Regions from separate parts of the Homo sapiens genome. Here regions 1, 3, 4, 5, 6 and 7 are each linked to region 2. The links come from fine-mapping of genetic effects on gene expression. A gene starts in region 2. Each other region holds a variant in brackets. All regions are shown on one strand. Distances are from middle to middle. Region 1 overlaps TSPAN9 (tetraspanin 9). Region 2 holds the start of TSPAN9 (tetraspanin 9). Region 3 overlaps TSPAN9 (tetraspanin 9). Region 4 overlaps TSPAN9 (tetraspanin 9). Region 5 overlaps TSPAN9 (tetraspanin 9). Region 6 overlaps TSPAN9 (tetraspanin 9). Region 7 overlaps TSPAN9 (tetraspanin 9).

The links.
Region 1: its variant is fine-mapped to the expression of TSPAN9 in lung (TOPMed, PIP above 0.99). The same link has a PIP of 0.9 or more in fibroblasts and whole blood.
Region 3: its variant is fine-mapped to the expression of TSPAN9 in esophagus mucosa (GTEx, PIP above 0.99).
Region 4: its variant is fine-mapped to the expression of TSPAN9 in tibial nerve (GTEx, PIP above 0.99).
Region 5: its variant is fine-mapped to the expression of TSPAN9 in cerebellum (GTEx, PIP above 0.99). The same link has a PIP of 0.9 or more in cerebellar hemisphere.
Region 6: its variant is fine-mapped to the expression of TSPAN9 in nasal epithelium (TOPMed, PIP 0.92).
Region 7: its variant is fine-mapped to the expression of TSPAN9 in whole blood (TOPMed, PIP above 0.99).

What each region holds. Positions count from the first base shown.
Region 1 is chr12:3,280,609-3,284,977 of GRCh38, forward strand. It overlaps TSPAN9 (tetraspanin 9), which reads left to right. Exons shown (of 9, transcript NM_006675.5): 7 at 590-721; 8 at 1,126-1,209; 9 at 2,437-4,369. The coding sequence ends at 2,508. Among named protein-coding and RNA genes, the nearest start is that of LINC02827, 18 kb to the right of the region's middle. RefSeq lists enhancers at 3,618-4,118, 4,119-4,369. The variant A/G (reference allele first, on the strand shown) is at 2,577.
Region 2 is chr12:3,075,389-3,079,757 of GRCh38, forward strand. TSPAN9 (tetraspanin 9) reads left to right here and starts at 1,991. Exons shown (of 9, transcript NM_006675.5): 1 at 1,991-2,065. RefSeq lists silencers at 1,497-1,546, 1,597-2,096.
Region 3 is chr12:3,102,353-3,106,721 of GRCh38, forward strand. All of the region lies in intron 2 of TSPAN9 (tetraspanin 9), which reads left to right. Among named protein-coding and RNA genes, the nearest start is that of TSPAN9, 27 kb to the left of the region's middle. The variant C/T (reference allele first, on the strand shown) is at 1,667.
Region 4 is chr12:3,120,687-3,125,055 of GRCh38, forward strand. All of the region lies in intron 2 of TSPAN9 (tetraspanin 9), which reads left to right. Among named protein-coding and RNA genes, the nearest start is that of TSPAN9-IT1, 27 kb to the right of the region's middle. The variant G/T (reference allele first, on the strand shown) is at 2,295.
Region 5 is chr12:3,143,235-3,147,603 of GRCh38, forward strand. The region is part of intron 2 of TSPAN9 (tetraspanin 9); the gene reads left to right. Among named protein-coding and RNA genes, the nearest start is that of TSPAN9-IT1, 4.4 kb to the right of the region's middle. The variant G/T (reference allele first, on the strand shown) is at 2,560.
Region 6 is chr12:3,212,929-3,217,297 of GRCh38, forward strand. The region is part of intron 3 of TSPAN9 (tetraspanin 9); the gene reads left to right. Among named protein-coding and RNA genes, the nearest start is that of TSPAN9-IT1, 65 kb to the left of the region's middle. RefSeq lists an enhancer at 1,765-2,304. The variant A/G (reference allele first, on the strand shown) is at 2,171.
Region 7 is chr12:3,270,498-3,274,866 of GRCh38, forward strand. The region is part of intron 3 of TSPAN9 (tetraspanin 9); the gene reads left to right. Among named protein-coding and RNA genes, the nearest start is that of LINC02827, 28 kb to the right of the region's middle. The variant G/A (reference allele first, on the strand shown) is at 2,590.

The sequences.
Region 1 (4,369 bases), 210 kb after region 2:
GGTACCCACGGGGGCATTTGCCTGAACTGCTGAGTCAGATGTGATACAGCAAGGTACAGCCAGGGAGGGATGAGGATACAGGAGGGGCAGGCCTGAGAGAGCTGTGGCTGAGCTTTGGGATGAATGACTGAATTTATTTTAGCAACAGATTTGCCTCCATGATGGGGCTTGGCTTAGGTGAGGAGGCCCTGGCTCTAGGAGGAGAACAAGTCCATAGTCCCAGATGCTCCCATTTTAAGCCCTGGGGAGGGGCCGGCAGGGGGTTGGGTGGCAGTCAGCTTGGGACGGTTTACAGAAAGAGCAGAGGTGCTGGTGGGCAAGCACAGGGCTGAGCCAAGGGGCCCAGCCCGAGGGGTGGGCTGCATTGCCCTCTCCCGCTCTGGTCTCCAGGAAGGAGTGCTCACTCACTTCTCCAGTGGGCCCGGCTGAAGCCCAAAGAAGGGACAAGAAGCAAGCCCTTTGTCTCCTCCCTTAACTGCAGGGTGGCCACTTTTGCGGGGACTGGGGTTGGCCTGGGCAGGGGAAGGCCCTGGGGAGGAAGGGGCGGGCCATGGCATGTCTGACTGCCCCTTCCATTCCTGCTGGCCAGATGCGATGCTGTGGTGTCACTGACTACACAGACTGGTACCCAGTGCTGGGGGAGAACACGGTTCCCGACCGCTGCTGCATGGAGAACTCCCAGGGCTGCGGGCGCAACGCCACCACGCCTTTGTGGAGAACGGTGAGGCTGGGGATGGACCGCTTGGGTCCAAGAGCCCGTGTGTGGATGCCCCGGCACGGGGAGCCCTATAGGGGAGGCTGGGCCCGGGACACTAAGAGGTTGGCTGAATGTGGCGGTGGGGGGCTCACAAAAATAAAGCCAAAAGACAGGTGGAAAATGGGGGGTGGGGCTGGACCCACAGTTGGGAGAGTCAGAGGGCGAGGGGTTGAATGGGGTCTGAGGCTCTGCAGCTGGCCTTGCGGGTGGGGCGGAGGCTGCGCCAAGGGATGGGGACAGGGCTGAGGCCAGGGAGGGCTGGGAGGTAAGAGCGAGGACGAGGTGGAAGGAGAGAGTGAGCTGGGGGCTGGGCTGCAGGGAGCGCATGCTTGGGCTGGGACCCTAACCTCGTGGGCCTCGCTCCCCAGGGCTGCTATGAAAAGGTGAAGATGTGGTTCGATGACAATAAGCACGTGCTGGGCACGGTGGGGATGTGCATCCTCATCATGCAGGTAAGAGGGGCGTCCCCAGCAGCCTCACCCACCCTGCTGGCCTCAGCCTCAGAGGGAAGGAAGCACAGAGAAGTGAAAGCAGTGTTGGTACACGGCGGAGGGTCTGGAATTCATCACAGCTATTCAAGCTTAGCAGCTGTGCCTGCCACCGTTTCCGCAGAGCTCTGATATGAGAGCACGTGTCTACTCAGCACTGAGAGTGGTGCTCAGGGCTGCCTGTGGCCAGGCCCAGGCTGGGATATTGAAGCTGGAGTCAACCCCCGTGGGTTCCCCCAGTTCTGCCCAAACCTTGAGCTCAGAGAGCCATGCAAGACACACACGGTGTCCCCCGGTCACCATCTTTACAGCCTGTGCACATGGCACACTCTCTGTGGTGACCGTGAGACCACACCGGGCTTCCTTCTGCCTCCTGCACTCCTCTGGGTCCCCGGCTCCTTTGAGGATTCAGGAGGGAAGGGGCACAAACGAGTAGTGACGTGGTCCTGAGCACACATCACTGGAAAGACAGCCCTGCTGCTGCCAAGACATCGCACCATGTGTTCCACAAGCAGACAAGAGAGGCTTGACAGGAGTCCTTTATTTTTCTTTTTTTAAGAGACAGGGTCTCACTTTGTTGCTCAGGCTGGAGTGCGGTGGCGCCGTCATAGCTCGCTGCAGCCACAAACTCCTGGGCTCAAGCCATCGTCCCACTTCAGCCTCTCAAGTAGCTGGGACTACAGGCATATACACCACCATACCTGAATGATTTACAACTTTTTTCCAAAAACAGATGGAGTCTCCCTCTATTGCCCAGGCCGATCTCAAGCCATCCTCCCACCTTGGCCTCCTAAAGTGCCACCGTGCCCGGCTGGCCTGAGTCCTGAATGATCCCTGCCACCTCCCACTCCCCACCTTGGCTCCTGTGAGCCCCCACGTAGAGCCAGGTCCTCCGTGCATTCCGTGCCTGCAGCGCCCCTCTGAGTAGGCACACGTATGCATCCTGCAGAGGTTCGATGGCTTCTGGTCTAACAGCCCCACGAGGCTGAGCCAGAGTTCACCTGTGTGTGTCTCCAGGGTGACCTCTGTTCACGGTTTTCTTCATGTCTTCATTCCATAAGCATTTTCCTGGCACACCAGTGGCCATCCCCGCTTGCTCTAGGTGCCCTGTGACATCCCAAGCCTCTCGGGGCTGAGGTCAGGTCCAGGCTGCTGCAGCTCCTGCCTCAGGCCCCTCCCCGTGTCTTTCAGATCCTGGGCATGGCCTTCTCCATGACCCTCTTCCAGCACATCCACCGGACTGGTAAGAAGTACGACGCATGAGCGGGCTGGCCGGGAGTGCCCACCCCGCCCTGCTGCCCTGTGGAGGGAAGAGGATTGAGCTTTGTGTC[A/G]CCTGCCTGCGCTCTCCAGATATGACCCCTGCACCCACCCCCCACAGCCTGCCCTACCCCACCTACCCTGCCTCAGCCTCGGACTTCTCAGTGGGTGGAGTGCCAGGGAGGAGGAGGCACACGGAGACCTGGGGCTCGGGGCCCCTGGATTCCTGCATCTGCATATGCGTATTTGCCAAAGACGACAGGGTGGGCTGGGGTGCGCTCCGGAGGAACCCCCGGCACTGATGGGCTTCTGCCCCTGCCCTTCCTCACACTGACACTTTGTCCCCACATGGGGTGGGGAGCAGAGTGCCCGCCCCGTGGAGATACCGCCCCAGCGGGGGCTGCGACATCCATGGCCACCATGGGGCACCTGGCGGGGCGGGGGTCTGCCGGCCTCTGGGCAAGGCCCCTGGAGCATCTCGCCCAGGCTTTTTATACCTTACAATGTAACTTTTTTATTTTATTTTACTCTATGATTATTCAGGAATATTATCTCTCAGATAAGTTTAGGGTTAGATTTCTGATTTGTAACTTTTTACTGTGTTGATTTCTTTAATGGTTTGACTTTTTTTCCCTGAGGGTGAGGGATGGGTGGGAAGAGAGGACATCTGTCCAGTCTCAATCAGGACAGACCACCGTGCGACACCCAGGAGGCTCTCGGATGGGGCGCGCCTGCGCCCTCAGAACGTGTGGGAAGGAGGGGGCGTGGACAGGACACGGGACCTTGCCAGGCCTGGTGTCTGAGGACAGGAGCCTGGGAGAGGCGGGTGGAGCGTGAAGCAGGCTGGAGGTGCCCCTGCACGGGAGGTGGCGTTTGCTAACCAATCGAGCTGGAAATGCCAGGGCAGGGGGGCCCCACGGTGCTGTGGCAGAGCTAGAGGGGTCCTTAGACTTTTCACTGATGAGCAGTTGTTGGTTTTTTCTTTCTCCCTTCCTCCCGCTCTCTGCTGGCACGCGAGGCTTCCCCTTCCACCCCATGTGGGTATTCCCACAACAGGTTCTGCACACCCCAGTTATTTCACAGACATTCCTGCTAGAAACTGTCAGACAAATACCTCTCTAGTTCGGATGCTGCTCACTTTCCCCCTTGCTTCTGGAAGGGGAAGCAGTCCTTAGGTTTTGCTGTGCTGGGACAGTGGCAGGGGACCCACAGGGGTGAGGACCCACGGTCCTCCCCGCCAGCCTTGCTCAGCTGTGGGTTGCCCTGCTGGGAAGGAGGGAATCACGTCCACCTGGGTCCCAAGATCTTCGCCTCCTTCCCTGGGGCCACGGACATCAGCAGTGGGTTGGGTGGCGATTATATCATCTGTGATCCCAAGGAGAAGAAATACAGAAAACCCAAGAGAGGTCAGACTGGCTCTTGTTACCGGAGCCACGGGAAGAAAGCAGCCGGAGTCACGCACGTGCAGAGCTGGGCATGGGAGAGAAACGGGCTGGGGAGTGAGGCCAGGAGTGGGATTCAGCTGCAGCAGGGCGCCCCCTCCAAACTGCAGCTGGTCTGGCTTACTGTTTTGCCGTTCAAAAAGGTCGCGAATCCGTGGGACTGAGCACGGGGACCTCACCCGCTAGCCAGCGTCTGCTGCACTTGATCAGGTGGGGCCTTGGTGGGCGGCTGCCTTTCCTATACAGTTTGTCTTGTCACCCTGGTTTCCCACTGGGGCCAGGTCTCTTCTCCAGCCTCCACCTGCCTGTCTGATCCAAGAGCTGAGACACGGCCACCCAGCACCAGTCACTCCTCTGTTCACCTTAAGTAACACACAAATCGGGAACAGGAGGACAGAACCGTTGGCATTATCAGGATTCGTGTT
Region 2 (4,369 bases):
CCCATCCCCATAATTGGTATTCTTATGCCCCATTCCACAGGTGAGAAAACAGGCCTGAAGAGGTCCCAGCCGATAAAAGCAGAGCCAGGATTCAGACAGGTGTGTCTGGCTCCCAAGCCCTGCGGCTACTCCCTCACCAGGCTGCGTCCAATGGTCTGCCAGTGAGTTGGCTTGCTGGCAGACAATCCTAGTATATCTCTTTCCCTGTCTGAGACCCAGTTTCCTTTTCTGGGTACATGTACCCAACTCTGCCGCAGTGACTGGAGAGATTGGGGCTGGTGGGGGTTCCTTGGGAAGACTTTGTTATAGGGGCATTGAACAGGGCTTTGGATGAAGCAAAATGTAGAAGGAGAATATTTTCCTTGTGGGGAAAGGGAGATCAGAAGGAAATGGGTTATGGGTTTAGTCTAATAGACAAAAACAAGGTTGCATGTGTGTGACGGAAAGGGGCCCAGAAGATGAGTGGAAACTTCCAGTCTAATTAGCAGAAAGCAAAAGTGACCCTAGTGATTATAGCCAGGTTTTAAAAACTTGTCCCCAGTCAAGCTTAGTGCAATGGTAGGGCACGTGGGAAGCACAGCATACAGTTTCTTTAAAATTTAAAAAAATTTCACTTTTAAAGACAGGGTCTCCCTCTACTGCCCAGGCTGGAGTACAGTGGCATGATCCTAGTTTACTGCAGCCTCCAACGCCTGAGCCTCAGCCTCCGGAGCAGCTGGGACTACAGGGGTGTGCCACCACACCCGGTTAATTAAAACATTTTTTTTTTGAGATGGGGTTTCCCTATGTTGCCCAGGCTGTTCTTGAATTCCTGAGTTCCTGAGCTCAAGCAATCCTTCCACCTGGGCCCCCCAAAGTCCTGGGATTACACGCGTGAGCCACCACACCTGGCCTAGAAGACATTTTTGATGACAGTAATGATGAGAAGAGATGGCGTTTTAGTGCTCTTTGGAAACAAGTTTAGGCCTTCTAGCTTTAAGAATCCGGGCCTATAATCCCAGCACTTTGGGAGGCAGAGGCAGGAGGATGGCTTGAGCCCGGGAGTTTGAGACCAGCTTGGGCCCAGGGAGACCACCGTCTGTACAAAAAAAATCAAAAACTTCGCCGGACGTGGTGGTGCGCGCCTACAGTCCCAACTACTCTGGAGGCTGAGGCGGGATCACTTGAGCCCGGGAAGTCGAGGCTGCAGTGAGCCGTGATCGCACCACTGCACTCCTGCCTGGGCAACAGAGTGAGTCCTTGTCTCAAGAAAAAACAAAACAAAACAAAAAGCAAAAAACACATAAAATCCAGGCCTGAAAAAGCGCCCGGGCCAGACATGCCTAGCTGGAGTTTCTCCTGCCTTAGCGCACCCCTCAGGCACACGGTGCCCTGTAGTCGCCCTTGGAGGCCGCCAGCTCCTGGGGAGGCATGGCCCTTTCTGCGGGAGGTGTCTCAGGCAGGCTCCAACACACACCCGCGCTGTCAGCATCTCGCACAGTCCGCCCGAAACACCAGGGAAGGGGTTCGTAGGTGTGGGGGTGGGGTGGCGAGGCCAGGCAGCCTGGCGCGAGGGAGAGAGCCGAGGCCTGGGCCAGGAAGGCCCTTGGGTGCCGTGTGGGCGCAGAGCCCAGGAGAGCGCACTGCCAGGCCCGGACCTCCCCGCCCCTACCCCGGGAAGAGGCCCGTTCGCCGCAGGGGGAAGGCGGGATCATAGCACCTCGGAGGAGCGGCCGGTCCGGGCATGCGGGCGGCGGGGCGGGGAGGGAGGCTTCCGGAACCCCGAGAGAGCACCCGTGCCTCGCGGGCCCCGTGCCCCGTCCCCGGGCTCCCCTTCCTCTAACGCAGGGGACCCAGCCCGGGGCAGTGCCGGGCACTGGCGCTGGCGCCCCGCTCAGCCCTGCGATCCTTCTCCGCCCCGCCCCTCCCCGCTCCGCCCCGCCCCTCCCCGCTCCGCCCCCGGGCCGCCCCGCCCCGCAGGCTCGCCATTCCCGGGCAGGCCCCGCCCCCTGTTTCCGCTGGCGGCGGCGGCGGCGGCGGTGCCGGAGCGCGAGCAGAGCGGAGACCCCCAGGTCCTGCGGGCGCGGTGAGTGCGGCCCGGGCGGCGGGCGGCGAGGCGGGTCTCGAGAGCGTGCGGAGTCGCGCGGCCTTGAGCCGGCGCCGGGCGGGCTGGGCACCCCCAGGCCGAGACCCGAGAAGGGGGAGCGGCCGGGGGCGCCCACGGGAGGCAGTGTGGGCAGGGCGGCGGTGGGACGAGAGGACGAGGAACAGAGTAGGCGCCGTGCGGGAAGCGGGCCGGGAAGGGGAGGGTGGGTGCGGGGCCCGGGCACCGAGCGAAGTGGGGTCCTCCAGGGGATGGCTCCGAGGAAGACCGTTTCAGAAAGGGAGTAACCCGGGGCCGGCAAGGGTTTCCGACTGTGTGACCCCGTGCACCGCTTGGGACAGTCCATACAAGGACCCCAGAGAGGGCCAGGGGGCCTTCGGGCAGGGCTGGGATATGGCCTGCAGCCCCCCGGCACCCGCGACCGCTCCCTGGGCCACTGCTGGAAGATCAGCACTCCGAGTGACAGGACTCTGGCACATCCCGAAGTTGGAGATCTAGCCCATCTGTGCATTCAAGTTTGGGACTTCAAAAAACTTTCTTGTGGTTTTTAAAAAAAGATCCAAACAAGAAACCGGCTTGTTGTTGTAAGAGCAATATTTGTACTTGTACATCTTGGAACTGGAGTCTTGGATCTCCTCCCTCTTTGAAAAATATACGAGTCACTGCTTCATCTTCCCCCAAATGCCTGTTTTGTCTGGGGAAGCTTGGGCTAGTATGGGATCCCCTGAGCTACCTTTTTCTCGCATCACCAAAACGGGGGGTAAGAAGGCAGGGGCTTACCTGCCTTACCTGGTAACTCTTAGTTCAGAGACCCAGTCTCTCATTATGTGCGCGTGCCCTTCTGACCTGCAGCTGTCCTTTTCCCTGGGGTGACTCAGGTATTTCCTCCTCCAGGAAGCTTTCCTGGACTAGTGGAGAAAACTGAAGACTCATGCGAGGATCCCTATATATACCTGCCAGCTCCCTTCTCTTTACTGAAAATAGCCACAGAGAATGTTGAATATATGCTTTGCTATAGAGATACGCAGCCAGCTTGCCATCATAAGTAATGGGGAGGGGAGGAGAGGGATTATGGATAATTTCAAACAATAGCCTGGACAAATCATTTATATTTAGCTAAGGAATGCAGCCAGAGAGGCAGACAATTACACCGGCTTCCTACCCTCGGCTTGGTCCTGGCATGGCTGATGCAGCTGGGCTGTGGGTTGGAGGGAGAGGATTGGGGTAGATAAAACTTGAAGTGTAATTCAGTTCTACTCTCACTCACTGAAGACGCCCTGTGTGCAAGTCCCTGAACAGGTGAGAGTAGGATTTTTTTTTTTTTGGTCTGGTTTAATCAGATTTTAATATTCTGGCAGAGCTTTTTAAACCTATGAACAGATATTTAATATTAATAACAATAACTAGTGTTGATAAAGTAATTTATAGTTGGCCAAGTTTTTTCTATGCACGTTACATTAGCTGTATATAATTTTATTTAATTCATACGTAATCTTGTGAAATTTGTTACTTTTTTTTTTTTTTTTGAGACAGAGTCTCACTCTGTTGCCCAGGCTGGAGTGCAGTGGCAGGATCTCAGCTCACTGCAACCCCCGCGTCCCAGGTTCAAGCCATTCTCCTGCCTCAGCCTCCCGAGTAGCTGGGATTACAGGCGCGTGCCGCCACGCCTTCTAATTTTTGTATTTTTAGTAGAGATGAGGTTTTGCCATGTTGACCAGGCTGGTCTTGAACTCCTGACCTCAAGTGATCCACCTGCCTTGGCCTCCCACAGTGCTGGGATTATAGGCGTGAGCCACCGCATTGGCTGAAGTTTGTTACTTTTAATTGCCTTCTTATAGGTTAAGAAAATGATACTCAGAGAGAATAAGTATCTTATCTAAGGTCACAACACTCATTAAGTGAAAGAAGCAAAACTTGAACCCTGGCTTCTGACCTTCCTGCCTTGTGCCATCTATTCTGCCATCTGCCTCTCTGCCCTTCTTCTATTTTATTTATTTATTTTTTTCTGAGACAGACTTTTGCTTTTGTTGCCCAGGCTGGAGTGCGATGGCACTATCTCGGCTCACTGCAACCTCTGCCTACTGGGTTCAAGTGATTCTCCTGCCTCAACCTCCCAAGTAACTGGGATTACAGGTGCCCGCCACCACACCTGGCTAATTTTTGTATTTTTAGTAGAGATGGAGTTTCGCCATGTTGGCCAGACTGGTCTCAAACTCCTGACCTCAGGTGATCCGCCTGCCTTGGCCTCCCAAAGTGCTGGGATTACAGGCATGAACCACCGTACTT
Region 3 (4,369 bases), 27 kb after region 2:
CCTGGCCTGAAGTGATCCTTTTGCCTTGGCTCCCAAAGTGCTGGGGTTACAGGTATAAGCTGCTTACCCTGGCCAAGGAGGAATTTTTTTTTTTTTTTTTTAGACAGAGTCTTGCTCTGTCACCTAGGCTGGAGTGCAGTGGCGCGATCTCAGCTCACTACAAGCTCCGCCTCCCACCAGGTTCATGCCATTCTCCTGCCTCAGCCTCCTGAGTAGCTGGGACTACAGGCGCCCGCCACCACGCCCGGCTAATTTTTTGTATTTTTAGTAGAGATGGGGTTTCACCATGTTAGCCAGGATGGTCTCGATCTCCTGACCTCGTGATCCGACCGCCTCGGCCTTCCAAAGTGCTGGGATTACAGGCGTGAGCCACTGCGCCTGGCCCCAGGGAGGAATGTTTTTTTGAGAGCTATTGCACAGCATGGTGACTACAGTAAATAATAACATGTTGCATATTTCAAAATTGGATCTGGAACAGAGGTCACTTAACCCATATTTGTGGACTGAATGAGTGAGCCCCAGAGAGGGACATCCCAGTGTCCAGGTGGCCAGGACAGTGTTCCACCCAACCTGCCCATCTTTTGAATGAGGAAGATGAACTCACGAGGTGAAGCCATGTGCTCCAGGCCACTTGCTGTTAGGTGGGAGAGCCTGTCTAGAAACCTACATGTTCTGCCTCCTAGTTTCCAGCTGGCTCCCTTGGGGGATGTCAAGACAGTAATAAAAACATGATATAATCCCAGTCAGCGTTGACCAAGTACATTCTGTCGTGATGTGCAGAGTTTTGTCCTACTTCTTAAAATGCACTCACTGAAAAGAGATTTCCTGAGCCTGTTCTCTATTCCCCTTGGCTGCCGTCACCAGTTCCTGCCTCAGAACACACTTGCCCTCAATGTGACTATGATGAAAATATATTCACTATTTTTGTCAGCCTCGTCCGCGGTAGCTGTTGTCTGCATGCTGTTTTAGGTCAACTAATATTTTACTGAGGATTCTTATGTTGGTTATCTTTCCATTCCTCACGTGCTTATCTGTATGGGATTTGCTCACTTATGCTTTAGCTGAACACTCATTGAACACTTCTGGTGTGCAGGCAGGCTCTAGGAACCAGGGACTCAGTGGTGAATCGGACTGGACGTGCCCACCTGGGGACCTCAAAGGTCCCTAAACTGGGACTGCAAGTTGGCCTGGGGGATGCTGCTGGGAGAAATCATTTTGGGGTCTTTGTCTCTGTAGGGCTCCCCACCATGCCATGCACGAACATGTATTCCTAGACACTGCTCCTGTTGTCTCTTGGCTGTGACTTTGGGAAGTGGCTGGGATGAGGCAGCCACCAGCCTCAAAGGACTAGCACCTGGAGAGTGGGAAAGTGGGCTTAGGGCTTGTGTTTCTGGTCCCAGCCTCTGCTTGGTTCACACTAAGTGTCCTCAGCCTCATCCCACAGATATTTGAAGGGCTCCTCTGGCCAAGCACTGCTCCCGGCTCTGGGGCTGCAGGAGTGAGGAAAAATCCCTGCCCTCAAGAGCTCATATGTTGGTGGAGGAGACAGACAATGAAAATTGGTGTATATCAGGAGGTGGCAAATGCTATGGAGGACAGTAAAGCAGGGCGGGACGGGAGGATGAGGCGGGGTCAGGGAGCCGTGAAGGCGTTACTGAGGAGCTGG[C/T]ATTTCAGGAGAGACTGGAAGACAGGGAGGGAGTGAACCTGTGAACATCTTGGGGTGGTGCCTCCTGGGGCAGCGGGAGTAGGAGGTGGGAGCACATGAGGCCTGTTCAAGGCTGGTACAGCTGGAGGGGAGTGAGCAAGGGGAAGGTCATGGGATTTGGATTATCTAGGCCATCTTAGGGGCTTTAGCTCTTATGGCAGAAGAGATGGGAGCCATGGAGGGCTTTGAGCAAAGGAGTGGGAGAGCTGGCATACATTTCAAAAGGATTGCTGTGGCTGCTCGGTAGAAAATCGGTAAGTGACAGTAGCAGTACTAATAACTGTTTTTTTTTTTTAATTGTTGTTGTTGTTTTGAGGTAGGGTCTCACTCTGTCACCCAGGCTGGAGTCCGGTGGCATGATCATGGCTCACTGAAGCCTCAACCTCCTGGGTTCAAGAGATCCTCCCACCTCAGCCTCCTGAGTAGCTGGGACTGTAAGCATGTACCACCACGCCTGGTTAATTTTTGCATTTTTTGTAGAAATGGGGGTCTTGCTATGTTGCCCAGGTTGGTTTCGAACTCCTGGGCTCAAGCATTCCTCCTGCCTCAGCCTCCCAAAGTGCTGGGATTACAGGCGTGAGCCACTGCGCCTGGCCTCTAATCACTGTTAGCTACCAAGTGCTTATCGTGTGCCTGGCTCGGTGCAGACTCTTTGTGGCACCTCATTTAATCCGCCCAGCAACTTTACTCCAATTTACTTAGCAAGAAGTTCAGAGAAAGTAAACATTTTGTCCGAGGATACAGAGCTAAAAGGTGGTGGAGCCAGCTGTCAGCTTAGGTCAGGCAGGTTCCAAAGGTTGTGCCCTGGACTCTTGTCCATATTTCCAGAGCAAAAGGGCCGGTCATTTAGGACAACAGTGGACAGGCGTGTGGGGGTGATGGGCAGGGGGACCCTGTTCCTGTTGTTTGGCTGCTCTCAGGCGTTCAGCTGGTCACCCTGGGAGAGGGGTGAGGGCAGGCCCTCTGCTTTAACTCACTTGTGTGGTAGGAGGAAAAGCAAATTGTTTCCAGATGAGGGGAGGCTGCCTGGGGAGTGGAATTTGTGCCCCGTCTGCGCACAGCAGCCTCTCTGGGCCTACAGGACCCTGTGTCTTTGTGTTCAGACAAGCCCTGCTGTGTAGAGGCCTGAGCTTTCTGCCGCCGACTTGGGCTCAGTGCCCCGAGGCAGGCAGATGGAGGAGTGCGGCAGATGTGCCGTCCTCTCCCAGGGGAGGGAAGCTCCTTCTGTTTCCGAGTGAAGTCTGGGCCAACATGCCCCGTATTTTACCTATCCCTTTCCTTCTAAGTAGTTCAGATCACTTTCAGAACGTCACTTCCATAATCCTTATATTTATTGCTCCCTGAGGAAGTAAGGAAGATATTTTTCCTTGTCTTAAAAAAAAAAAAAAAAGCTACAGGCTGGAAAAATTGGGGTCAGAGAGTAAGGCTGGGGTGGAGCAAGGGAGGGAACCCAGGAGCCTAGGCCTCTGTGCAGCTTGCCTTGAGAGGGGCAGGGAGGGAAGAGGCGAGCTGAGCGGGAAACAGGGGCTTCTGGATTTGGGGGTGCTTCCTTTTCTGTTAACCATGTGCTTTGGTGTCTGAATCCCGGTGGGGTGAGGGTCCCTGCCCTACCTAGTAGCTGTCTCAAGGAGTGTACATGCCCCTGGGGGCCTAGGGCCTGCTTTGTGTGCACGCGCGTGCACACACACACTCACACACACGCACACACGCGCACGCACACACGCTCATACACACTCACGCACACATGCGCACACACGCACACGCGCACACACACTTTCATACACACGCTCACACACGTTCACACACACACGCTCACACACACATGCACACATGGTCACGGGCACTCATGTTCTCAGGTGTGCTTGGTCCCATCCACACTCATCACCGCCTCCCTTACCCTCACGTGCTCATTCGTATGTGCAGCGCACACTCAGTCTTGCACACACACACTCATATACCCCCTTACCCCTCACCCACTCCATCCTCACCCCATGTGCACCTACACATAGCATGCACACTCGCTCTTGTGCGCGCACGCACACACACACATGCCTGCCCATGCTGTGGCTCTCACACACACGTGCGTGATTGGTTAGTTCGCCTGTGCATATACCCACCTATGCCCACAGGGAGGTGTTTGGGGGACACATGTCAGAGACGGGCACCAACAGCTGGCAGCTGACTTGGCATGGGAGTTTCTGACAGTGGTGGAGTCCCACAATAATGGCTTTTAGCTTACCACATCCTGTGCCTCAGTTTACCCCTCTTGTATAATAGAGAGAGCTTGGAGAGACTGAGGACACAGGAGACACAGGTGGTTGAGTGTTCTGAGATCTGCAGACTGGGAGGCATTATGCCTGTAAAATGTAAAGTTAACAAAGGCAGAAACTGGTGGTGGGAAGTGGAGGAGGTCCTTAAAAAGAAAGATGGGACTGGGCCTGGTGGCTCACGCCTGTAATCCCAGCGCTTGGGGAGGCTGAGACAGAAGGATCACTTGAGCCCAGAAATTTGAGTTCACCCTCAGCAACATAATGAGAACCCTGTCTCTGCAAAAAATAAAAAAATTGGCCACACGGGGTGGCATGTGCCTGTAGTCACAGCTGCTTGGGAGGTTGAGGTGGGGGGATCACCTGAGCCCAGGAGTTCGAGTCTGCAGTGAGCCGT
Region 4 (4,369 bases), 45 kb after region 2:
AGGGACCACATACAGTGTAAACTGGACTGTGGGGCTGGGAGGGCTAGGGGAGCATTGCCGCTGATCAGTCAGTCAGTTAATGTTGACCAAGCCCCCATCACCTGCCCGAGGTGAGGCCGAGCTCTTCCAGTGAATGAAAAAGATGTACACACAGCACTTCCCTTGGGGGAGCTACCCATAATGGGGTAGACCAGCCCCCAGGAGGGACCCTTACGGAGTGGTGGGTGATAAACTGCTTCTGTAAGTCAGAGAGGCGGCTTGGGCCTTCAGAACTCAGGTGGGAGTCAGTAGGCCTGGGTCCAGCCTGCCACTGGCCACTGGCTCCTTTGCAGGTTGTGGCTCAGTCACAGGACCTGTCTGAGTTTCATCTTGTGGAATGAGAAGGTTGGGGTGGGTCTTCCTGAAGTCCCTTCCAACTCTGCATAGTTAATAGTCACCATTTATCAAGTGCTTTCTGTGTGTCAGGCGGTGTGAAATGCTTGACAGACCTAATCCCATCTCATTCTCCCAGAGCGAGGCTCTTTTATTTGCCCTCATTTTGCAGATCTCAGGCTTAGAGCTGAGGTTGCAATCCAGTGGCCTCTAGGTCTGATCCAGGCCACAGATGCGTTTTGTTTGGGCGCAGCTGACATACTGGAGAGATTTTTCAAAACAGGGGATGTTGGCTTTTTTTTTTTTTTTTTTTTTTTTTGAGACAGGTTCTTGCTCTGTTGCCCAGGCCAGAGTGCAGTGGTGTGATCACAGCTCATTACAGCCTCGACCTCCCAAACTCAAGTGATCCTCCCACCTCAGCCTCCTGAGTAGCTGGGACCACAGGCACATGCCACCATATCTGGCTAATTAAAACTTTTTTTTTTTTTTTTTTTTTTTTTGTAGAGACAAGGCCTCACTATGTTTTCCAGGCTGGTCTCAAACTCCTGAGCTCAAGTGATCCTCCTGCCTTGGCCTCCCAAAGTGCTAGGGTTATAGATATGAGCCACTGCACCTGGCTGATGTTGGCTTTTTAAAGTTGGAAGGTCTAGTTACACTGAGCCTGTGCTGCCCGGTGGCAACAATTGGCTGGATCTGGCTCTCAGGCACCACCTCCACATGGGGCTGTGCTTTCCTGACCCCTCAGTCTTGACACAGTACTGGGACTTGCCCTTGTACACAGTAACTTCATGAATTTATGTTTTCCACCTTGTAGGTACTTGAGTTTGCAAACCTTGACTGAAGGCTGTGATGTTATACTGTATCAGTCACACAGCTACTGTTAGGGACAGTGTTCCAGCTTGAGTCTGTCTGACTTTAAACTGTGAACCATCCTGCTGTTTTTCTGAGTTCTCCCCTCCCCTCCCCTCGTTTTTTGTCTTAAAAAGAGATAGAGTTGGCCGGGCGCGTGGCTCACGCCTGTAATCCCAGCACTTTGGGAGGCCGAGGCAGGCAGATCACGAGGTCAGGAGATCGAGACCATCCTAGCTAACACAGTGAAACCCCATTTCTACTAAAAATACAAAAATTAGCCGGGTGTGGTGGTGGGTGCCTGTAGTCCTAGCTACTCAGGAGGCTGAGGCAGGAGAATGGCGTGAACCCGGGAGGTGGAGCTTGCAGTGAGCCTGCACTCCAGCCTGGGCGACAGAGTGAGACTCTATCTCAAAAAAAAAAAGGAGATAGAGTCTTGCTCTGTCACCCAGGCTGGTGTGCAGTAGCACAATCATAGCTCACTGCAGCGTTGATCGGCTGAGTAGCTAGGACTTCAGGCACACACCACCATGCTTGGCAAATTAAAATTTTTTTTGTTTGTATGTTGTCCAGGCTGGTCTCAAACTGGTCTCCTTCTGTCTTGGCCTCCTAAAGTGCTGGGATTACAGGTGTGAGATACCACACCTGGCCCTGAGTTATTTCTAAATCCTAGCAGGGATTTTGAATCTTTTGTCTGAGCCTAGGAGACCATAGATAAGGAAGTTGGCAAGAACCCCTCTTAACAGAGAGGTTTGAGTCCCCGCATCTGTCTGAATGTGCTCCTGCAGGGAGGTGGCGTCCACTTTTGGATGTTGCTCATGTTTTAGTCCAGAGAAAAACTGTCCTCTTGCTACACAGTATGTCCTTTCTGAATTAATTAAATGTCATTGTTTTTTCTCTACCACTTGTTTTCCTACACCTTGGTTTCTATTTACTGGCAGGTTGAAAGCAGGTGACCCCGCCTCCTTGCCCCTAGGAGGGCTGCCAAAATGCCAAACAGAGAGCTTGCGTTTTGCCCCAGGCACTTGGAGGCAGGAAACAGGGATGTCTGTTTGGACAGTGGATGCTTCAGG[G/T]TTGGTCAGGGGTCCCTGGGGGAGAGGCAGGCAGGATGCTAGGCCTCCCAAACAGGGAGGCGGCCCCACAGGGAGCCCTGGTGGAGCTTGAGGCTTCCTGCATTTAGTGTTGGTCTGTCCAGCTGTTTCCTCCTGATAGAGTGGCTGGACAATGCCACAGTGACTCAACTCCAGCCCCGTCGACGAACAACAGGAGATTTGTCCAGGGTTAGCTCGGGAGTGGCGTCTGCATCCCTCACCTGCATCCAAGCTGCTAGTTGGGAGGAACCTGTTGCTCCTTGAACCGCTTCCCTGCTTACTCTTGGTGCCCTAGAGCCCTGTCCCAGTTGGATTGATTCAGGCTGTTTCTTTTTGATTTCCCTGTAGCTTGTCCTTAACCCTTCTTTGTGCACAGCTGACCTAGAGCTTCTGTGGCTCTGTGCTGACCAGCTGCCCGCCTGCCGTCCCAAGCCTGGCATTGCCAGACCTCCCTTGCCCTTGGCCTGAGGCTCAGTGGGTTTGGCACAGTCCCCGAAGGTTCTGAGTCTCTCTCCAGGCATTCAGGGCCTGGGCGAGCTTCAGATGAGAGAGACAGCTGTATGATTCATTAATCTCCTCCAGTGTGTGGAGGATTAAACAATTTTTTGGTGGGTTTATTATTATGTATTTTTTTTTTTTGGGAAAAATTATTACTTATTGAGTATTTTCTAAGGCTCCTGTCATGGTTACTAAGAGCTTTGCATGCATTACCTACCTTAATCCTTGCAGGCACTCTCTGGGAGAGGGATGGTTACTCCCATTTTACAGATGAGTCTGAAGTCCAAGAGGCTAGGGAGCTTGCCCAAGGTCTCAGATCCTTCCCACTTCGTATCCTGTGACACATGAGTTAGGGAGGGATGAGGATGTGCGGAAGAGTTTAAAAAATAGTTTGAGAACTGTTGATGAAGGATGAGAGGTTTAAAAGGAGCTGTGCAGGGAGGAGGCAGAGGTGAGCCGGGCTTGGTCCTTGCACTCCTGGAGTGCGGGAAGCAGGCAGGCCACCAGCTGCCTCTGATGTAAGATACAATGTGGTTGGTGCTAGCAGTGGAGCTGCCAGGGTAGTTTGGAAGCACATTTTCAGCTGGTATATGAGCAACTAGTAGAAGACACTTCAAAACAGAAGTGAGAAATTCCTGGCGCACAGAACGGATTTATCTGTCAGCATGACTTAAACTGTCCATGTAGAAAATACTGAGATATAGTCCCATTTATGTCTAGAGTTGCAAAAATGCAACATTGCTTAGAATTATTTTTAGTGCAATTATTTGGAAGTTTATATCAAAGGCCTTAGAAACATTCATTCATAATTCTGTTCTTTGGAGTTTATACCAAAGTAGTTATATTTTTTCATTGCAGCACTATTTATAGTAGCTAAAAATTGGAAGCATACTGAATGTCTAACAATAGAAAATTAGTTATATAAATTTTGATACATTCTTTTTTTTTTTTGGATGGAGTTTTGCTCTTGTTGCCCAGGCTGGAGTGCAATGGCTTGATCTCGTGGGTTCAAGCAATTCTCCTGCCTCAGCCTCCTGAGTAGCTGGGATTACAGGCATGCACAACCAACACGCGTGGCTAATTTTGGATTTTTAGTAGAGACAGGGTTTCTCTATGTTGATCAGGCTTATCTTGAACTCCCAACCTCAGGTGATCCGCCTGCCTCGACCTCCCAAAGTGCTGGGATTACAGGTGTGAGCCACCGCGCCCAGCCTGATGGACCACTGTGTGGGCTTTTAAAAATTATGTCTTCAAGAATTATATATAATGACTCAAAATAGGCCAGGTGTGGTGGCTCACATCTGTAATCCCAGCATTTTGGGAGGCTGAGGCAGGAGGATCGCTTGAGCCCAGGAGTTCGAGACCAGCCTAGGCAACATAGTGAGACCCCTGTCTCTACAAAAAAATTTTTAATAAATTAGTCAGGTATAGGGGTGTGCCTCTGTGGTTCCAGCTACTCAGGAGGCTGAGGTGGGAGGATTACTCAAGCCTGGGAGGTGGAGGCTGCAGTGAGCTATGATCATGCCATTGTGCTTTAGCCTGGGTGACAGAGTGAGACC
Region 5 (4,369 bases), 68 kb after region 2:
TTTATAATTAATAATATTTATAGTTATATTAATCATAATTAATAATATTTATAATTATATTAATTATAATTAATACACCATTAATGTCTTGAGGGCAGGCACTTTGAAACTGTCCTGGTTTTTTCTCAAACCTTTGCTCACTAATTTTAGCATCCATCAGGGGTTTTTGCTTGCAGCTCTTATAATTGTGGTGTTTGCCTAATGGTAATTTTCTGTTTCCCTCATTTCTTCTGCATTTATTAATTGGAATTCTCCAAGAAGGAAGAGCTATTTCTTCTGTCCCACTTATTTATTCAATTAGTTATTTTTATCATTACAGACTCATGGATATTTATTTACTTCACAGATAAAAAGTATAAATGTATGGATATAGGATATATAATAAATATCAGGATATATATTTTATCCTATAGGTTAGAGTTACAGGAACAGCACAATAGATATTTATTTTGTTGTTCAACTTGCTGCAGCCTTGGCCATGGGAAGCTCTAGGGAGCACTTTCAGATGGGCTTCTGTGCCCTTTGGTGTATTCCTGTCTTTTCTGGAGCTCTTCCTTACTTTCTGGCACAAGATGCTCCGGGTCGTGTTATGTTTCTCCTGCCCCAGGCCTGAATCAATCACTTCTCTAAGGAGCTCTGCTTCTTTTTGCTGGAGCATGGTGTTTAGAAACCAAGATCTAGGTGCTAGGTGCGTTCATTGCTACTGGGGTGTCATTGCTTCTAGGTCCTCTCAGAGAATAGAACTAAGAAATAGATATATGTCAACCCAGGCATGGACACATATCTGTATCTCTGTTGTTCTGTTTATTTGTGTTTATATTTACAAAATCACGAGTGTGTGCTGATATATTTATTTATTTATTTATTTTTTATTTATTTTACTCTTTTGAGACAGTCTTGCTGTCACCCAGGCTGGAGTGCAGTGGTGCGATCTTGGCTCAGTGCAACCTCCACCTGCTAGGTTCAGGTGATTCTTCTGCCTCAGCCACCCTAGTAGCTGGGATTACAGGCACCTGCCACCACGCCCGGCTAATTTTTGTATTTTTAGTAGTGACAGGGTTTCACCATGTTGGCCAGGCTGGTCTTGAACTCTTGACCTCAAGTGATCTGTCTACCTTGGCCTCCCAAAGTGCTGGGGTTACAGGTGTGAGCCACTGTGCCTGGCCAGTGAGTGGTATCCCTATAAGAGGGACACAGGAAGCACCATGTGATGACAGAGACGGAGGCACAGGTTGGAGCAATGTTCCTGCCAAGGATTCCCAGCAATGACCAGAAGCTAGAAAGAGGCCAGGAAGGATCTTCCCCTAGAGGCTGCAGAGGGAGCCTCTGCCAATGCCTCCATTCTGCACTTCCAGCCCCCAGAACCGCGAGACCGTAAATCCCTACTGTTGAAGCCTCCCAGCTCGGGGTACTTTGCTGCAGTGGCTCCGGGAATCACATGGAGTGGTTTCTAGTGGGGGTTGCAGGTGCGGGCAGCTTCTGTCAGGCTCCTGCCTGAGATCATCCTCTCTCACATCTGGGTAGCCCTGGGCTGCGCCCTGAGAAGTGAACACAGAGGCTAGTGCTAGCATGTCAGCCATGGCCAGGTGCCCCTTCAGTGAGGCTTGTGTTTGGGCAAAATTAGAACCCAAAAAGCTTGCATTTAAACCATAGCTGCTGATGATATTTGTCCCTTTTCCCTATTCCCCCAGACCTTTATGTTACGAGGATAATCTGATCATCAAATTGTGTTTCTTAGCATTTAATTGGACTTCAAATCAGTTGCATTGCTTTGTTTCCTTGTGCAGAGAGCTCAAGGGCACCTCCTAGGAAATGTCCCTCCTTGATTTCACACATCAAGGTCATTCCTAGGGCTCCTTTTTCTTCCCCCCACTCCCTTGTGAGCACACAGTGCGTGCAGCAGCCCTCGGCGTCCTCTGGTGGATGACGCGTTTGTCAACTGCTTGGACCGTGAGGCCCTCCGGTCAGGACCGCGACTGCCCTTGCATTCACCTCTAGACTCTTGAGCACGTGCACAGCTCTCAGTGCCAGCTCAAGGCTCTCTCCCGTTGTGTCCTCCCTGACTGCCAGTCCATGGTGCTCTTGTTCTTCCTTGGCAGTGCTCTTGTTTGGGAAATGACCTTTTTGTGTGAACTTGTTTTGACGTGCCAGCTTGATGAAGAGCTCCTCCAGGGCCAGGGTCCTCCCGTCCCTAGGAGGTGTTCAGCTAGGGTTTGCTGTGGATTTCCTCCTTTTTGATACCCGTGGGCAGAGGAGCACCCACCTCAGTACATCTTGCTGAGTTTGGGGCAGAAGACTCAAGTGCATATGGGGAAACTGAGTCCCAGGTGAAGAGAAACTCACTCGTCACCCTGAATTCTAATAGCACATACACAGTGAGGGCAGAAGAACAGGGACCAGGTGTCCAGAGCTTCCCAGCAGTCCTCTCTGCCAGGATCATCCTGTCCTGCTCATTCCTCATTTTTCTGTCCAGATGGCTGGGGGAAGGCGTGGCTGGCATCCGCCAAGGTGATGCATGAACACATGGGGTTCAGAGCAGAGAGGGCTCAGACCATTTGG[G/T]GTGTCAGGCTGGGAAATCGGAAATGAAAGGCCTGGCGTGGTGGCCAGCAAAACCTCCTCCTGGTGCAGTGTTCCGAAATCACCTGTGGTGGGTTTCATTAGCATGGGCACAGGGGAGGGAAGGCCTCTTGGCAGGCAGAAGAGACAGATGGGCTGCAGGCACTGGCTTGGCCTTGCGAGCGAGCCACGGGGCACGCGGGGCCTGGCGGTGGCCTTCCACCACGAGGCTCCCGCAGGCACAGGCACGAGGACGCTTTCCCACTTTGAGGCTGTGAGCTCCCCCGGCAAGCCCACTCCCCTCCTGGACCTCAGTCTTGTCATCTGTAAAATGAGAAGATTGGGCCAGGCGATCTTTGAGGTCTCTCTGGCCCTGACAGCCTAGATTTATGACCCGTGGCCATCAGGGGAGTGGTGACTAGGTTTGTGGTCAATGGCAAAGGGGCAGGAGGGCGCTGGGATGCGAGGTCAGGGGATGGAGCCCGTTGGAGGAGGACAGCTTCCCCTGGGTGTCTCAAGGCCCTCGGGGAGCTTAGGGTGGGGAGACTGTGTGGAGATGGTGGTCTCTGAAAAGAGGGCTTTTCTTCCTCCATAGTCCCCTGACAGTTTGGTTTTCATTCTGCCCACCTGTCTGTCTACCCTCCGTCTCTCCTACCAGTATCTGTGGAGCACCTCCTGTGCAGGGAACACAGCTGTGCACGAGACAGACAAGGTCCTTGCTTTCATGGAATCCAAGATCCGATTGATGAAGACAGGCATTAGACAAACAGTTCACAAATAGTTAATTACACTTGGAATAAGTTTAAATGCCTCTGTGCGCTCTGCTCTTCCTCCTTGATCTTACTTTTCTGCTGCCTCCACTCTCCTCCTCTTTCCTGCCTCCTTATCTTTCTCCACCTGCTTTGTGTCTATGGCCTTTCTCCACCCACCCAGTGCTGAGATCTTCCTGGGATTCTGTGCTCTCTAGGCCAGCAATGCAAAAAGCTATAGATCTTGACCTTTCTGCTTGTGCGTCTGGACATTCTCTGGGAGGAGAATGGTGGTGGATCCCGTGGCCTCCTGAAAGGGGTGTGGGTAGATTGTAAGCTTTGGGGCCATGCTTTTTTGGGTTTGCATTCAGATTGTGACACTTACAAGCTTGCACAAGTCCCTTATCTTCTCTGAGCCTCAGTTTCCTCATCGGAAAATGGGTTTAACCACACTCACCTTTCAGTAGTATTTTGGACATCAAATGGGTAGATGTAAGTGAAAGTTCATTGTTGGTACCTTGATTTTAAGGTGTTTGATTAAAACTAGCATTCTCTCCCCTTTTCTCCTTACTTCCTTTCTGCAGGGTATGTAGTGAGATATTTTTGAGTTTAGGGTGGAGACTGGAAGCAGGGGAGCCCTGGCCCTCTGCAGGTCACGCTCCAGCCTGGAACCCAGGTGAGGTATGGAGGAGCTGCTGGGCAGCAGGAGGCAGGGACCACGGTCCCTGCCCTGGGATGAGGAGCCCGCCAGGGGCTGGAGAGAATGACAGGCGTCCCATGTATCCCAAAAATGCAGTGTGGTGTGACAGCTGCCTGCTGCATCCTGCTGAGTGTTGGGGCCCGGGAGACCCTCGCCGAGGAGCAAGGTTGGTGGTGGGCATGCTGCAGCCTGAGTCCTGGTGGCATCTCCACCGACGCGACGGGAAGTGGCCTCTCCCTCCTTCAGGATCGCCCCCACCTTCCCTGCCCACTTCCAGATTCAGTTTGAGCCACCTAGGGCCTGTTCTGCCCCCGAAGAGAGAGAACCAGCCAGCCCAGTGCTGCAACGATGGAAGTGTTCTGTT
Region 6 (4,369 bases), 140 kb after region 2:
ATGCCTATCCGGTGAAGGGATTGTGGACAAGCAGAGGGAGTGGGGAGGGTGGAGAAGGAGAAGGCAGGAAAAACATGGTGATATTGGAAGCCAGAGAAAGGGGCTAATGCAAAGGGTGTCAAACAGATCTGTGGAGCGCTAGGAATTGCTTGGGTACAGCGGTGTGCTGGTTGCAGAAGACCCCTTTTAGCAATGGCACTTTGGATCATGCGGGGAAGGGCATTAAAGAACGCCAGGTGGAGGAAGGTCTGGAGGACATGGGACTGTGGCTGGGCGGGCAACCTGGGGAGTCTGTCTGCAGGGGTCTCTAAGCAAACGGCAGTTGCTGGCGGTGAGGATCCTGTGCCTTCTGTTCTCTGTACAGTGAGGGCGGGTGTGTTCTGAAGCCTCACTCTGCCCCCTGCCCTCTCAAGGGGGGCTTCCCCCGCTTGTTGGCAAGAGCTCATTGGACCCAAATCAGAGCGACAGCTTGTCAGGCCGATAAGCCTGGGCTCTGGGCAGGAGCTCTTTATGTCTGAGCCATTTAGGACACTCATCGTGACCAGTCCCTGGGGCTCAGAGGCCTGGTTGGGGAGGAGGTTCAGGGACCCTCAGGAGAGAGCAAGGGTGGAGGGAGGAATGCTGATGTGGTACTGAGTGCACGAGGTGCTCACTTTGTTCCCATTTATGGCAGCTAAAGAGAGCTGCAGCGAAGCCCCCCTCCCCCTTCCAGCCCCCCTTCACCTGTCCCTTTCTCAGCCTGCCTGCTGGGAGGAGGGGAGTCTGAAAAGTGCATATTTCACAAAAGCCACTCCGTAGAGGGCTGTGGGTCTTACTCAGGAGCTGTGGGAGGAATATTGACAAGATTCTCTGCATTGCCGATTAGCTTTCTGTCTTCCCACCTAAATGGAGACTTCTCACAACTTGGGGCAGGGAGGGGCTGGGCTGGGTGGCCACCCAAACAGCCTGCGGGATCCTGGGGTGCCTGGCCATGCATCCTGCATTTCCTCCCCACTCCTACAAATGCAGGTGTGCAGCTCTTCTTGGAAGATGCATGCCAGTTAACTCTCGCTTGTATCTGGGATCAAAGTGGCAGAGTGGAAAAGAGCAGGGAGTTGATCCCAGAGACCTGGGTTCTAGTCCCCGGCATGCTTGCTAACTAGCCGTGTGATCCTGGGCAAACTGCTTCTGTCTCTGGGCCTCAGTTTCCACATCTGGAAAATGATAGACTTGGACCAGCTCATCTCTGAGGTCTCTCTGGGCCCTGACATTCTGTGGTTGTATATGTTTCTTTTGTTCCCTTTGTCTTTTTTAAGGAGCTGATGATTATTGAGATATTTTATCTTCCTTATCCTCATAGTAGCGTCGGTAGAGTGATGGACCACGGATGAGTTTCTTCTGTCTCATAGGTGGTGACACTGAAAGGGGACTGCCTCACCTGGACTACGTGTGTGCTCAGTGTGCTGGAACTCACTGCCTGGACAAAGCTGCCCTAGATTTTGCCATTCCTGGAGCTCACAGGCCTGGAGTGAGCGGCTGCCTGCCGCGGGGCTGGGTCGGGACAGGAGCGCTGGGTTCCAGGGTGGACGAACTCCTGTTGGATTTGCCTCTTCGGACCTCCAGTTCCTTGCTTAGTGGTGGGGGGAGAATCTTCCCTGTTAGCCCATTTCCCACTTCAGGGTAGCAAGAAATGGAAGTCGTTTCTGGGCCTGGGCAGGAGATGGGGCCACAGCCACAGCAGTCAGTTGATTTGAACACGCCCTCCCCCCTGCAGGGGAGGGCCTTCACGCCCTCTAAGCAGGTAATGAGGGGGCGGGCTGCCGTATTAAGCACCCTGGCTACGCTGGGGAGAAGCTCTGCACCTTGTTTGACACACAGAACTGTCGCGGCTCCTTCCTATTGTTAGAAGCCTTAATTACTATTGTTCCAATTCCTCCCTCCAGCGATCGTCATTAGGAAGAGCGTTCTTGTTTCTTCCTCCTTCCCCCCATCCCCCTGAACACGTCTTCAGGGCTGTTCCCTGGCGCTGCCTGCCTCTCACCCGGCTCTACCCTGTTCACTGTGCCCTTCTACCCAGGGCAGCCCCTGACAGCCCACCTCCCTTATCCCCTGGCCCTGGCCTGCGCTCCCACCTGCTACCTCTTTAGGAAACAAACACATACCCTTCCCACCCCCATCCCCAAGTCTCCCC[A/G]TTAAAACTCATGGCTCAAAGCCAGGGATGCTTTACCTTGTGTGTGGATTCAAGAACCTGTCCTACCCGCTTCTCTGGTGGTTGTGAGAATCCAAACCAAGAGAAGGGTGGTGCCTTAAACTGGAAAGTACTGCACACATTTAGGGGGTGTCCGTGCACCAGCGCCGCAGGCCATAGCTGGCTGGGGGAAGGCTTGGGCTACCCTGCTGCTCTGCCATTGACTCCCTGGGAGGATCTTTGACTTCAGCTTCTCCTCGGTAAGGTGGGAATCAAATCTTAATCAAACTTGCCTGGCCAACCTGGGAGCCTTGTCAGTGGGCTGCAATGGGATGGTGATCCTGAAAGTACTCTGAGGCCTAGGAAGGGTTCTGCTGATTGGAATCAGGATCGCCAGCTTATTTTTCTTTTCATGACTTCCTGTTGTTCTCTGTATCTATTTCCATCCCATCTCTCAGCCTTCCTAGAGGGCCCTAAAGCTGTGCAATGATTTGTTCCCTGGGGAATTTCTCCACCAGGCAGCCCCAAGTCATGTTGCTGGCTCCTGCAGTTGCCTGCTGAGGCACCCCAGCGTCTGACACCTGGGGAACCCCACTTGTGGGCTGTCTGGGAAGTGTGGGGGTGGGAGGGGCCCCTCATTTCCCTCCAGCTGCCATTTGCTGCTCTCTCCAGGCTCCGTGGTGGGCCCGGCACAGCCTGTATCGGAGTGGAGAACGTAGGTTGGTCCAGAGCACGTTCCACCGGGACCTCTCCGTCTGGAGCCTGTATCAGAGTGGAGAACGTAGGTTGGTCCAGAGCACGTTCCACCGGGACCTCTCTGTCTGGCTTGCTCAGGCTCATTTCTTCTGTCTGGGGACTTACGGGGATGAGCATGAAAACCTGTGCATCCTGGAATCACAGGGACACGGCTCCATGTTCCCAGCGGTTGATCCATTATCCCTGGTCGCCCTGCTTCCTTCTCAGTCGCTCTGGCCTCTGCTCCCTCCTGGAGTCCTGGGCTGGGAAGTAACCTCAGTCCATGCTCAGAGCCACCCCATCCCCACCCCACCCCCACCCCAGCCCTGGGGCCCTCTGGGAGCTGGGGAGTCTGTGCTGTGATTGGCAGGAGTTGGACAGATTTGCTTGCTTGGGCTATCTGCCTGTGGGGCTCTCAGCTGGATCATCCTGCGACTACTGACTAAGCAGCCAGATGGCTTTTGCTGGGACCTTCCAGATGTGGGAGTAGGTTTTGGAGGTGCTCATTCGTGCCCACATGGCCCTGGGTCCACATCTCTTTTGCTCCCCCGAGATGTCCAAGCTCACACTGGGCACTCGCTGGTCAGAGTGGTTGGGGTTCTGGAGGCGGGGCTTGGGAGGATATGGGGAGCTTCTCCAGCATCAAGCCTCCCTTTTACCAGGATTTTCGTACCGTCTCAAAGCACCCAAAGCTCTTCTCAAACACATCTCGTCAGTGGGGAGGCTTATACAGAGAGGGAGATGGGGTGCCTGGTGTCCAGGTCCCACTGGGCACAGGGCCTGCAGGGCTGAGGTGGAACCCACTGGAACCCGGAGTGGCCCTAATGGGCCTGGAAGCCCGTTTGTCACAGGTGTGGTCCGGAGGTGGTTCTGGCTTCCAGATTCAGCCATGTGGATCCCCTAAGGGGTCACCTGCTGCCTTTCTCTGCTTCCCAAAAACGTCCACGTGGGCTTTTTTCTCTGCAGGCACCCTAGGGAGGTGGAACCTCCTTGGCCAAGGCCCTCATCTCTAGCCTTCAGACACAGATCCCCAAGGCCCCTGCTTTGGAGGGCTCTGAGGGCTCCCTGGGTCCTGGTGAAGGTCCAGGCCAGGCCACCACCCCAAGGGCCCACTGTCCTGGGGGAAGCTGAGCCTCCTGAGTAGGCCCCTGAACTGCAGTTGGAGGAAGGGCTGGAGAGGAGATGAGAAGTGGCAGACTGGCTGAGAGACTGCTCAGAGGGCAGCCTGTTGCCCGGCTGTTTAATTTACTGGAGTTATTTTTCCTCATCGTTCCCTTTCTTTGGTGTTCCCAGGCTGCTATTCGTGGCTCTTTCCCTGCTGAGCTCTCTTCACGTCACTGTATTTAGGAGATAACTGAGGAGCTGAGCCTTCCACCTGCCCCTGGGCCTCATGCCCGGACCTTGGATGCCAGGGGCTGAGGTGTAGCATCCTGGGGTCCCTGATGGCAATGTCCCCTGAGTTGGCTG
Region 7 (4,369 bases), 200 kb after region 2:
CCAACCTAGAGTCTCACAGATGCCTTGATTGGAGCAAGCCCCCAGGCAGGGCAGGTGCCCCCCATACTGAGGCTAGGCCAGGAAGCCCAAACAGATGGGTAGCACTTCAACAGGGCCAACCCTGCTCCCAGCTAGGGGCCAGAGGACACCAAGCCCTTTGTGGAGCTGGGGGCCAGGACTGCTGGTGACTGGGCATTTATCCCACCACGCAGGGCCCTGACACCCCTGGAGGGGGGTAGGGGCTGTCCCCAAAGTCTCGGATAGAATCTCCTTCATCGTGGACTCTTCCACCCCAATATACACTTCGGGATTTTAGATTGCAAGAGGTGTAGGTATTGTAACAGGACTCACTCTCAACTGCTAGGGGTTTTGGTCAATTGGGGAAGGGTTACAAAGTTGGCTGGAGAGAATTGACAGTCTTGAAACATAATTCAGGAGCTTTATAACTGCAGAGGCTTGCAGCCCCCAAACACGATGCCCCTTAAGTTTGGCCGTGGGTAGACATTCTCTCTTAGAACTGTCTCACATGGAGAATAACCCCATTCTGGTATAATCAAAATGTAACTGGGTTGTAGATATGCAAATGCTTTATGTAATGTTTATTTGGAGGAAAATTAGGCACAAAAATATGGGTGTCATCTCCCTGACACCTTTGTAAGTTGGTGAGATTAGGGGCTGCAAAGTGAAGGTATGAAGGTGAATTGGAGGCTTTGAGAGAAAGTGTGGGGTCCAACAGTAATGACCAAGGAATCATGCCATCTGGCTTGAAGTTATGCACCAGCTCAGTGTGAGACTAAACTGTGCTATGGCTGCCACTCAAGCCAATGGGGCCTTAGGCTGAATTACTAGAAGTATAGAGCTCAGAACGTAGGAGGGGAAGAGCTGGGTCCTACCATAGCTGGAGCCTAACTTTCAGTTTGAGACAGGCCTGTTTTACTTGTTCTTAGTGGGCTTCTTGGGCAAAACTAGGATTGATGCATGTTAGCCACAGGGAAGTAGATTCTTGCATTAATAAGAAAGAATTCCTGGCTGATTAGAGGTATGCAGAAAAAAAAAAAAAAAGAAGAATGGAGTGCATTGTGGGATGGTGAGCATTCAGCCCCTGGGAGACCCGTGTGGCTGCATCCCACCCCATGGTTCCAAGGTGCTGTGGTCCTCCTACCTGCTGGGTGACTTCAGCAAAGATGTGTCTGTGACTTTGTCCCTTCATTTCTCTCCATGCAGAATTGGAGGCATCGTCTGCTCTCTTGCCTTCCCTGCCCCTCCTGCCTCTCCCTTTATGGCTGTGAGAATGAATGAGCTGCGGGGGCCCTTGGAGGCAAGGGGTGTCTGAAATACAAAGCAGCGGCTGCGCTCCTGGCACCGATGTATTGTCTCTGCTCCCCATGATGAAGTTCTTGGCAGGTCGGCTTCTTCCAGAGCCAGGCAGGTTCATTACTAGCCAGCATGTCAGGCTGTGAAATTAAAGCTGTTTTGGTTTTTTTCTTTTTTAAAAATTCTCCACATCCACTAATTTATTAAATGCCATTAAATGTTGGGCCTGGCCTTGGCTCATAGAAACATTAGGGAGCACTCAGTCCTAGCATTTGAAAATTTCCTGCAAGCAAAAAGTGGATGAGGGTGTCAGGGGGGCCAGGTCAGGGGCCACCAGTGACATCTGATGCCAGAAGCCCAGGTGCCTTGTGGGGCTCTGCAGACACATGAGGCAGTGGGGATTAAAATAGGGCAGCAGAGGTGGGAGCAACCTGAGGGCACTGGGGGTTCCAGGAGTGGGGAAGACGGGGTGAAGAGGAGGCTGCTTTTTCAGGAGGATTTGCATGTCTGGGTCTGGTCCTGTTCCCCAGCTATGGCCCACTCAGGCCCCTCCATCCATCCCCATCATTCATTCATTTATTCATTCCTCCAGCAAATATTTATCTAGTAATCCAGGCATGTTCTGGGCCCTACAATGGAAGAAAAATGGATAAGACACAAACCTGGGTCCTGGAAGTGCATGTGTGTTTTTTTTTTTTTTCCCCAAAGTGCTGGGATTACAGGCATGAGCCACTGCGCCCGGCCGTGTGTGTGTGTTTAGTGAGGGTAGGCAGCAAGTCTACACAGAAGCCTGAGAGGTCCTAGGTGTGTCCTCTGCTGTGGGCCCGGCGCTGGCAGAGGAGTCATCCCTGGCGAGGGGCCGCTCCCACCAGTGGGAGACCGATGGGACCCATGAGATATGGGCAGTGGCTGCCCCTAGGATCTAAGCAGCATGGAAGTGGGTGGAGAAGCTCAGGACGGGGAAGCCCGAAGGGGGAATTGTGTCCCTCACCCCCAGAGAAATAGGATGCCTGCGTGAAACATACGTAACGACACGTGGCAGAAGCCTGTATTTAAACCACAGTCAGCATGGTTCAAACTGAAGACAAGGAAGACACCGTGGGGATATTAGCTAACTACAAGACTTAACAAATGAGGTGAGGCTGGAGTGTGGGCTCACTGTATGGCCATAGCCTGACTGGGCCTCAGTTTACCTGCTGCGCGTATTGTGGATGGGCCCCTGGTGACAAAGAAGATCCTGATACAGCCTGATGACTTGAGGCTTTTCTCTGTGCT[G/A]GGGGCCTGCACCCTTTCCCTCCTCCGGAGTCAGGGCACGGCCCAGACCAGATCGCCCTGTGGGATTTGAAGGCGTTGCCAGCCCTGCTCTAGGCTCTGCGGATTTAACCACAAAAACAACAGACCCAAATCCTGGCCCTCAAGGAGGCCATTGGCAAATGTAAGGATGGGATTCGTCTTCTCAAATTTGGATGTGGATTTGTTTGTAGCCCTGATTTGAAGTTATTTTGAAATGCCTTCGGCTGGGGAAGGGGCAGGGGAGGCTTGGTACTCAGGCTGGCCCCTGGACCTGCACCTGCTCCGGGGAGGGCATCAATCAGGCCTGGACCACACCAGGAGTGGCTGGTGACCTTCTGCGGGTTGGTGCTAGCATTGCCTGGGGCCCAATCCCCTGAGTCACCCTGCCTCACCCCAGATTGTCCCATCGTGGGCTAGATTATAGCTCAGTCATCTCAGCTGAGACAAACCCCTGGTTTTGGAAGGGAATTTTCCCAAATGCCACCAGCTAAGCTCTCCGGCCCTGAGCTTTGGCTGTGCCACCACAGACAGGCCTTGCCTCCTTCCTGTGCTATGTGCTGGGCTCCCTCCACCAGAGGCGGCTCCCCTGCCCTGCACCTCCCTCTCCTGCTCCTGCCGCACCCTCTCCCTGCCCGCTGCACTGGCTTCAGAGGTCAGCTTCCTGACTTCCTGCCCTCCTGCCTGTGCGGGGCAGGCCTGGCTCACCAAGACTTCATGGCCAACCTGTCTCTGCCATCACCTCCTCCCTCCTGCCCTTGCTCCCTCCCCGATCTCAGCCCCGGCTGTCCCCAGCTCACCAGCTGGCATCTTTGGGCATATCGCTGTCATTGGCTCTCCCTTCCCCACCGCTGGAGGGAACACATCAGATTCTTTCTCCAATGGCTGTTCTCAAGATGTTGGCAGCCCAAGGGTGGGTGCCTGGCGTGGGGGGATAGGGTAGGGGGCGGGGTTTCTCAAACTCTATTGACAATTGGGGCCAGACAGTTCTTGACTGTGTGGACTGTCCTGTGCACTGCGGGGTGTTTGGCAGCACCCCTGGCCTCTACTCACCAGGTGCCAGGAGCAGCCCCTCCCATTGTGGCAACCAAAAACGTCCCCAGACATGCCACATGTTCCCTGGGGAGCAGAATTGCTCCTGATTGGGAACCACTGGGCTGAGGGCTGAGAGCACCATGTCTCAGACTCGGCTAAGACTGCGCCAGAGGGACCTAAGAAATGATCTCGTCCAAATCCCAAGTTTTAAAGGAAATTGGGCCTCCGAGAGCTAAAGAATCTTAAGGTCACACTAGGGAGCAGCATGATGAGAGGCATTTTAGGAAAAGAATCAGGCAGCTCTATGCAGGCTGGGCTGGAAACTAGAGGCCAGGGGCAGGGAGGGCAGTGGGGGCCGTGATCTGGACATGGGACCTGTGGCGAAGGCCCAGTGTTGGTGCCTGTCACCTGTCAGTCGGAGGTCCCCTGGGAGCAGGTAGTGAAGGCTTCTGCACCAAATGCCAGAAACCAAGGTTTTGTCCCAGCCCAGCAGTGTGACTGGGGACTTCCTTGTCCCCCCGCTTAGCTTCCTGGAAAATCGAGGCGTGACCTTTGTGTTTTCTTCTTGCCGGGAGGCTCTGTTAGTGTTGGGCCATCAGAAGATGGGAGCAGAGAGCTCATCTCGGCAGGAGCCCCTTGAGGATGGGAGCGTGGCAGTGGGGATGTGCGTGGCACCCGCTGTACTGCACAGGCCTCCTCACTGGGCAGACGTGCACCATGCGTGGAGTTG